Homo sapiens: one gene and its partner. The protein of the gene in region 2 interacts with the protein of the main gene of each other region in a pairwise test. Each region holds a gene or a part of one and is shown on either strand. Other genes may lie near its edges.

What was found.
Region 1: the proteins of PPIG (region 2) and NKAP interact in a two-hybrid assay, tested with the Homo sapiens proteins (one large-scale study listed by BioGRID and IntAct).

The regions. Positions count from the first base shown.
Region 1 is NC_000023.11:119,919,847-119,923,461, forward strand, and holds the end of NKAP (NF-kappa-B-activating protein), read right to left. Parts: 3' UTR 826-3,615; downstream 1-825. Other genes in the region: AKAP14 (A-kinase anchor protein 14), read left to right, coding at 65-117, 662-761. UniProt on the Homo sapiens protein: Acts as a transcriptional repressor. Plays a role as a transcriptional corepressor of the Notch-mediated signaling required for T-cell development. Also involved in the TNF and IL-1 induced NF-kappa-B activation.
Region 2 is NC_000002.12:169,590,846-169,594,670, reverse strand, and holds part of PPIG (peptidyl-prolyl cis-trans isomerase G), read right to left. Parts: intron 1-3,825. UniProt on the Homo sapiens protein: PPIase that catalyzes the cis-trans isomerization of proline imidic peptide bonds in oligopeptides and may therefore assist protein folding. May be implicated in the folding, transport, and assembly of proteins.

The DNA of each region.
Region 1 (3,615 bases), on a different chromosome or scaffold from region 2:
TTGAAAAAAACAAAAAGAGTTGGTATGACTGGTCTGGGCTAACAGTTGTCCTTCTCTTTTTTAGGATGCACCCATTGTTGTTTCTTATGTAGGTGACCACCAAGCATTAGTTCACAGGTAATGAACATTTGGAGGTTTGTTTTAAAAGGGTGGGAGAAAGGTCATCACACTCCAGGAATCCAGCAGTTGCGCAACAACAGATAGTTCATGTAATGGTCACTTTTCTTCTTTGGACCACCAAGCCCATTAGAATGGGCTGAAACTGTTCTAGAAAATTATTTTTCTTAGTGTCTGGTTTTTCATTCATTATAAGCTTGAGGATTAGTTGCTGGAGTGGGGTGGAGGCAAAGTGGGTCATGTCTATCGTTTCTAAGGAAAACTTCAATATCACATAAAATTAACTCATGTATAATAATCCCTTTTATAGCAGCTCTCTTAAAGTATCTTTACATATAAGCTCATAAATCCTTTCATTGACTGGGCTTAAGAAACAGTAAAGGATAGACATAGAGAACCTTAGCTACCTCCCCTCCCCCGCCAATAAAAGAGGCTTCTTGCTTACTAGGAATATAAAAGAGTAAATAGGGAATCCCCTTTGTTTGATTTTAAAAGCTTTTGATTTAAAAATACTTTAAAAGTGTTTGTTTTTCTTCCTTTGTAGACCAGGAATGGTTCGCTTTCGAGAAAACTGGCAGAAGAATCTTACTGATGCCAAATATAGTTTCATGGAGTCATTCCCCTTCTTATTCAATCGTGTCTGATACTTACAGGATGTCTTAGGATTGTTTTTCTCATCAGGATACATTAAAAATACAATACAGCACGTCAAACCACAGAATATTTATTGAGTAATAAACTTGTGGCACACAATCCAGCTGTATTTTTTTGCATTCATTCATTTTCCATTCTGCAACCTCCATCACATTAGCAGAGTAACCAGTAAGTTGTTTTCTATTTTCTAAAGTATTTTTTTCTATCACTATATGTATCACTTCTGAGTCTTACAGGTATAGAGCTGAGTTTAGAGAGTTGCTAAAATTCACCTATTGGACCAAACTAAGGTTGGTACTTGGCTGTTTGTTCCCCATCTGAGCCTAAGTCTCCAGCTCAGACACATCTCTTTATGGGCACAACTGGGAACAACAAAATGGCAACAGTTCTACAGCTCATAATATAACCAGTCTGAAGGGTTCCCCTACTCACAGACCCCTTCATTTACTGGGAGTTAAGCCTCACTGCTAAATAATATATTTTGAAACTGGAAAACTGGGCATGCTGCCTTCCACAATACACCACTATACTCATGATTGCAGGAGGGTGGCTTGGGGACTAGGGGCAATGACACGGGAAGGATACAATCATTGCCCTTACTTATCTTTGATCTTCTTCCCATCCTCACACTGAATAATCACTTGTTCCTACCTTCCCTGTGAACCTCTCTTGCCTGGCTGCAAAATTTTAAGACACCAAAGACAAAATTACATTATGCTCTGAGTGATTACTTACAAGTACATCAGAATATTTACTTACATAGAAAAGCACTGGAAAGGAGGAACACAAAATATGAAAGACAATTGATATGGTACTGAAATTTTTCTTTTTTAACTGTTAGATATTTGTGCAATAAATAAAAAAGGAGGGAAAACCACATCAGAGCAATAGGCAAGGAGGTGGCAAACTAGATAAGTCTCCTTGGAGAACAAAAAATATATTTAAAATACAATAGCCCTACTACAACTGATTTATGGCTCAGGTGACTAAACACAATTTGAAGCAGTAACAACACTCATAAGCTGAAAATAAAATACTTTTAGCCCTTTTATTCTTCTTGCCTCTTTCCCAAAGAATATGCCAATGAAGCTGTTCTTGATGTCACAATATTCATATATCGCAGAATTTCTGCATTTAAACTACCTTGCCTACTGAAAATAAGATAATCATTTCATCTCTAGGAACCAGTAACCAAAAAAAAAATGTCCTTAGAGAATACATTTTTATTTGTTTGTTTATTTAGAGACGGAGTCTCATTCTGTCTCCCAGGCCGGAGTGCAGTGGCTTGATCTCGGCTCACTGCAACCTCCACCTCCCAGGTTCAAGCAATTCTCCTGCCTCAGCCTCCCGAGTAGCTGGGACTACAGGCACGTGCCACCATGCCCGGCTACATTTTTTGTATTTTTAGTAGAGATGGGGTTTCACCATGTTAGCCAGGATGGTCTTGATCTCCTGACCTCATGGTCCGCCCACCTCGGCCTCCCAAAGTGCTGGGATTATAGGTGTGAGCCACCACGCCCAGCTGAGAATAAAATTTTTAAGTGGGTATTACAAAATTCAGGTTTTATTATTCAGGGAAGTAGATGGATTGAGACTCAAAACTTTGGGAACTAGTTTCTTTTAACTTTTGAAAACTACAGATTTATTAGGCTAGGCAGCAACTACAATTAGGTATAAATAAACAGAAATCATTTCAAATTCAGGGGTCATTAATGCTGCTACATGCTGACTCTTATTTTCAGTAGTTGCGGGTTAAAAGTAGACATTTCCTGGAACATATATTTAATAGTATTTAAGACTGTTAATACTGTTTAATTATAAAACTTTGGGCCGGGTGTGGTGGCTCACGCCTATAATCCTAGCACTTTGGGAGGCCGAGGCGGGCGGATTGTTTGAGGTCTGGAGTTTGAGACCAGCCTGGGCAATAAGGTGAAACCTTGTCTCTACTAACTATACAAAAATTAGCTGGGCATGGTGGTGCACACTGGTAGTCCCAGCTGCTCGGGAGGCTGAGGTGGAGGATTGCTTGAGCCCAGGAGGTGGAGGTTGCAGTGAGCCGAGATTGCACCACTGAACTCTAGCCTGGGTGACAGAGGGAGACCCTGTCTCAAAAATAATAATAAAAAAACTTTTGCTCTATACTTTGAAATATGACTGCCTTATTTAAACACTTTTGAAAAACAACCACTTAAAAATATAAGGCAAGCGGGCATTTTACAATAGTATAATCAGAATGTCCTTATCACTCAGGTAATTTAAATTTATCATAGGCATGTAATAATAATGCAGATCAAATAACCTTAACAAAAACGGCCAGGCACGGTTGCTCACACCTGTAATCCCAGCATTTCAGGAGGCTGAGGCGGGCAGATCACTTGAGGTCAGGAGTTCGAGACCAGCCTGGCCAAGATGGCGAAACCCCATCTCTATTGAAAATACAAAAATTAGCCAGTTGTGGTGGTGAGTGCCTGTAATCCCAGCTACTTGGGAGGCTGAGGTGGGAGGATCACTTGAACCCAGGAGGCAGAGGTTACAGTGAGCCGAGATCACACCACTGGGCTCCAGCCTGAGTGACAGAGTGAGACTCTATCTCAAAAAACAAAAAACAGAAAACCAACCTTAATGAAAACAGCCAAAACTTCCTGGGTTCCCTCCCCCATTCACTCTTCTGACCTAATTAAAATTGAACGAAATAAACAAAGGAACAAGACCACGATATCATAGTCCCACAATTTTCCATTTCTCCCCAACTTAAAAACAAACAGAAAGGTTTAAGTGTTTAAAATGAAATCTACTTAGTATATGAAAGACAGTTAAAAATATTTAATATCATTTTAGTTTCTC
Region 2 (3,825 bases):
CCTGGGTGACAGAGACTCTGTCTCAAAAAAAAAAAAAAAAAAAAAGAAAAGAAAGAGTAAAACTGAAGAAGAAAAATTACCAGATTGTTCATGAATGACAAAATAGTCATACCAGGTGAAAAAAGCAAGTTAGTAAACAATACAGACTATAAAATCCCAATTTCACACGTATCAGTAAGCACATTAAAAAGACAGGATTTACACCATAATGTTAGCAATCATCATGTGTGGGCCATGGGTTTAAGGGTAATTTTTAATGTATTTGTTTTCCAATTTTTCTTCAATTTCGTAATCAGGAAACAATTATTTTTAAAAAAGTACTAATAAAATGCGTTTTTTTTTTTTTGCCTATCAACAGCAAAGATCTTTTAAAAGAATAACTCTCAACACATGTACAAATGGAAACAGGAATTTATACTACTACTAGTGATCATATACAACTCCTTTGAAATTTAAGAATATGAGAAATTCATAAGTGTTTATACTTTGAACCAGTAAAATTCAACTGTTGGAAATCTATTATGAGGAACTACTCTAAATTCAGAAAGCCTTCAGGTATAAAGTTGGCTACGCTGGTGCTCTTTTTAGCAACATATAATCAAAAGCAACCTATCATAATATCACAAAAAAGTGAAATTGTCTCTGGTTCAACAATAATTAAAGCAATGCTTATGAAGATTAATAATTTGGAAAAATAATCAAGATATAAAACAGTGGGCCGGGCGTGGTGGCTCACACCTGTAATCGCAGCACTTTGGGAGCCCGAGGCAGGCAGATCACAAGGTCAGGAGATCGAGATCATCCTGGCTAACATGGTGAAACCCCGTCTCTACTAAAAATACAAAAAAAAAAAAAAATTAGCCGGGCATGGTGGCGGGCGCCTGTAGTCCCACCTGGAGGCTGAGGCAGGAGAATGGCGTGAACCTGGGAGGTGAAGCTTGCAGTGAGCCGAGATCACGCCACTGCACTCCAACCTGGGTGACAGAATGAGACTCCGTCTCAAAAAAAAAAAAAAAAAAAGATATAAAGCAGCATATGCAACATAATGATGATTGTGTAAACTACTCCCGACCTTCAAGCTCAGGCAAAGACTTACAAGAAGACAAAAAAAGAGTGAAAGGAAATAAATCATTATTGTGTGTGTCTGTAAGACTGGAGAGGGCTTTTGCCTCACTACTTCTTTCTAGTTTTCTTTAATAAATGTACTGCTACTTTGGGAGGCCAAGGCGGGTAGATCACCTGAGGTCAGGAGTTCATGACCAGCCTGACCAATGTGGTGAAACCCCATCTCTACTAAAAATACAAAAAAATAGCCGGGCATGGTGGTGGGTGTCTGTAATTCCAGTTACTTGGGAGGCTGAGGCAGGAGAATCACTTGAGCCCAGGAGGCAGAGGTTGCAGTGAGCTGAGATTGTGCCATTGCACTCCACCCTGGACGACAAGAGCAAGACTCTGTCTCAAAATAAATAAATAAATAAATAAAATAAATAATAAATGTACTGCTATTATAAAGAAAAAATTCCTAAGATATATATATATATATACACACACAGTCTTCTAACATTATAATGTACATGTGTGGAAATGGCTATAAGATGTATTCAGAGTCTATCACTCAAGGATACACTCTTCATAGAAATTGATTAGTTTTCCTGAAATGACAAATCACATATGCCTCAAATGCAAGAAAGATGAAAGGCAGCAAATTACTATTAAAATTACTACACAAATCCCTTGAATATGTAAATGTTTTAATATTAGCAGCTAATGAAAAACAATGGTGACAACAAAAGATGGCTCACATGCTGTGTCGCTAACATTACTGAAATGCTACTAATTACTAATCATTATAAAAAGTTACTAATTACTAATCAGAAACAGTATATCCTATTTCCTCTATAATTATGATTTCCTCGATTATTAAATAATACCTGAAATCACGGTGGTTCACACCCGTAATCCCAGCACTTTGAGGGGCGAAGGGAGGAGGATCACTTGAGCCCAGGAGTTCAAGACCAGCCTGGTCAACATAATGAGAACGCATCTCTATTAGAAAAAAGAAATCTGAGCCAGGCACGGTGGCTCACGCCTATAATCCCAGCACTCTGGGAGGCCGAGGCGTGCGGATCACAAGGCCAGGAGATTGAGACCATCCTGGCTAACATGGTGAAACCCCGTCTCCCCTAAAAATACAAAAAATTAGTTGGGCGTGGTGGTGGGCGCCTGTAGTCCCAGCTACTCTGGAGGCTGAGGCAGGAGAATGGCGTGAACCCGGGAGGCGGAGCTTGCAGTGAGCAGAGTTCGCGCCACTGCACTCCAGCCTGGGTGACAGAGCGAGACTCCATCTCAAAAAAAAAAAAAAAAAAAGAAAAAAGACATCTGAAACCAGATGCAGTAAGACAAACATCTGGTCAATTTTTCATTTTTTTTCAAGTAAAAGTAAAGAGAAAAAATAATGCTAGGAGATACCAAAAACATGATTCAGGGGAAAATTAAGCCCTTACAATTTTAAATAAAATATCCATGACCAGCCTGGGCAACAGCAAGACCCCATCTCTATTAAAAAAAAAATGACAATTAGCTGGGTGTGATGACCCAGGCCTGTGGTCCCAGCTACTTGGGAGGCTGCGGTGGGAGGATCATTTGAGCCCAGGAAGTTGAGGTTGCAGCGAGCAGTCATCATGCCACTACACTCCAGCCTGGCCAACAGAGTGAGACTCTGTTCAAAAAAAAAAAAAAAAAAAAAAAAATCATGAATTGCCTAAAAATACTAGAATATAATCAAAATTTTCAGTGTAGTAGTAATCTGTGGGTGATTTGTTTGCTGCAAATTTGTTTAGTATGAACTACAGCTAAAATCCAGACAAATTTTTCTTGGAAAAAAAAAAATCACAATATGTGGCACTGTGCCCCATTTCTACACAGCAATCAGCATAGTCTGCTCCCAACAGATGACATATATATGTTCTAGTTTGACCTAATTCTAGCTATTGCTTATTAGCTGTTAAAATTTATTGTCTACTTGACCTCATGTACTTACCTCACCTGCTTGACTCCTTCAGAAATTTAAGTATAATATACTGAATCTACTTTTTTCATCATAATGAAAACACATTTTTAATAAGATAAGCAATAAAGCTAATAAGCTCACTGAAAAAAATTAATCATACAAAATGCACAAAATTCTAAAACTTAGCTATAGCTTTTAATACTTTTATTATATTCTTGTTTTTCCTATGCAGGTGATTAAAGTTATTTTTAATATTTATCAACAATATAGTCACTTTTGTATTTCAATAATAAGGTAATACAATTTAAAAATATCACAGTGCTATCATTTATAAACTTCTGCAACAAACACATTTCATAAAAAAATCAGTAAGAGGTAACCAGTTCATGTGTAAAAAAATTTATCCTTGTAGTTTCATACATAAACTATTTTCCATATTAATCCTAAAATAACATGACTAAATGAAAAACAGGACAAAAATATAGGCAACTAATTATTAAAATATATAGTAGCGGACATGGCATTTATAAGTAGGCATATGGTAACTTTATTATATTTTAAAGTTATTTGGAAGTTTCACACATTATGAGGAAGTCAGCATAGCACCGAGTTTCTAATCTAGAAAAAATACAAAGTAAATTATTTCTATTTTTAGAGACAGGGTCTCGCTATGCCGCTCAGGCTGGAGCACAGTGGTAAGATCACAGCTCACCGCAGCCTGGAACGCAGTGGCTCAAGCAATCCTCCTACCTCAGCCTCCCGAGTAGCTGGGACTAAAGGCGTGAGCCACCACCTCCAGCTAATTTTTAAAAATT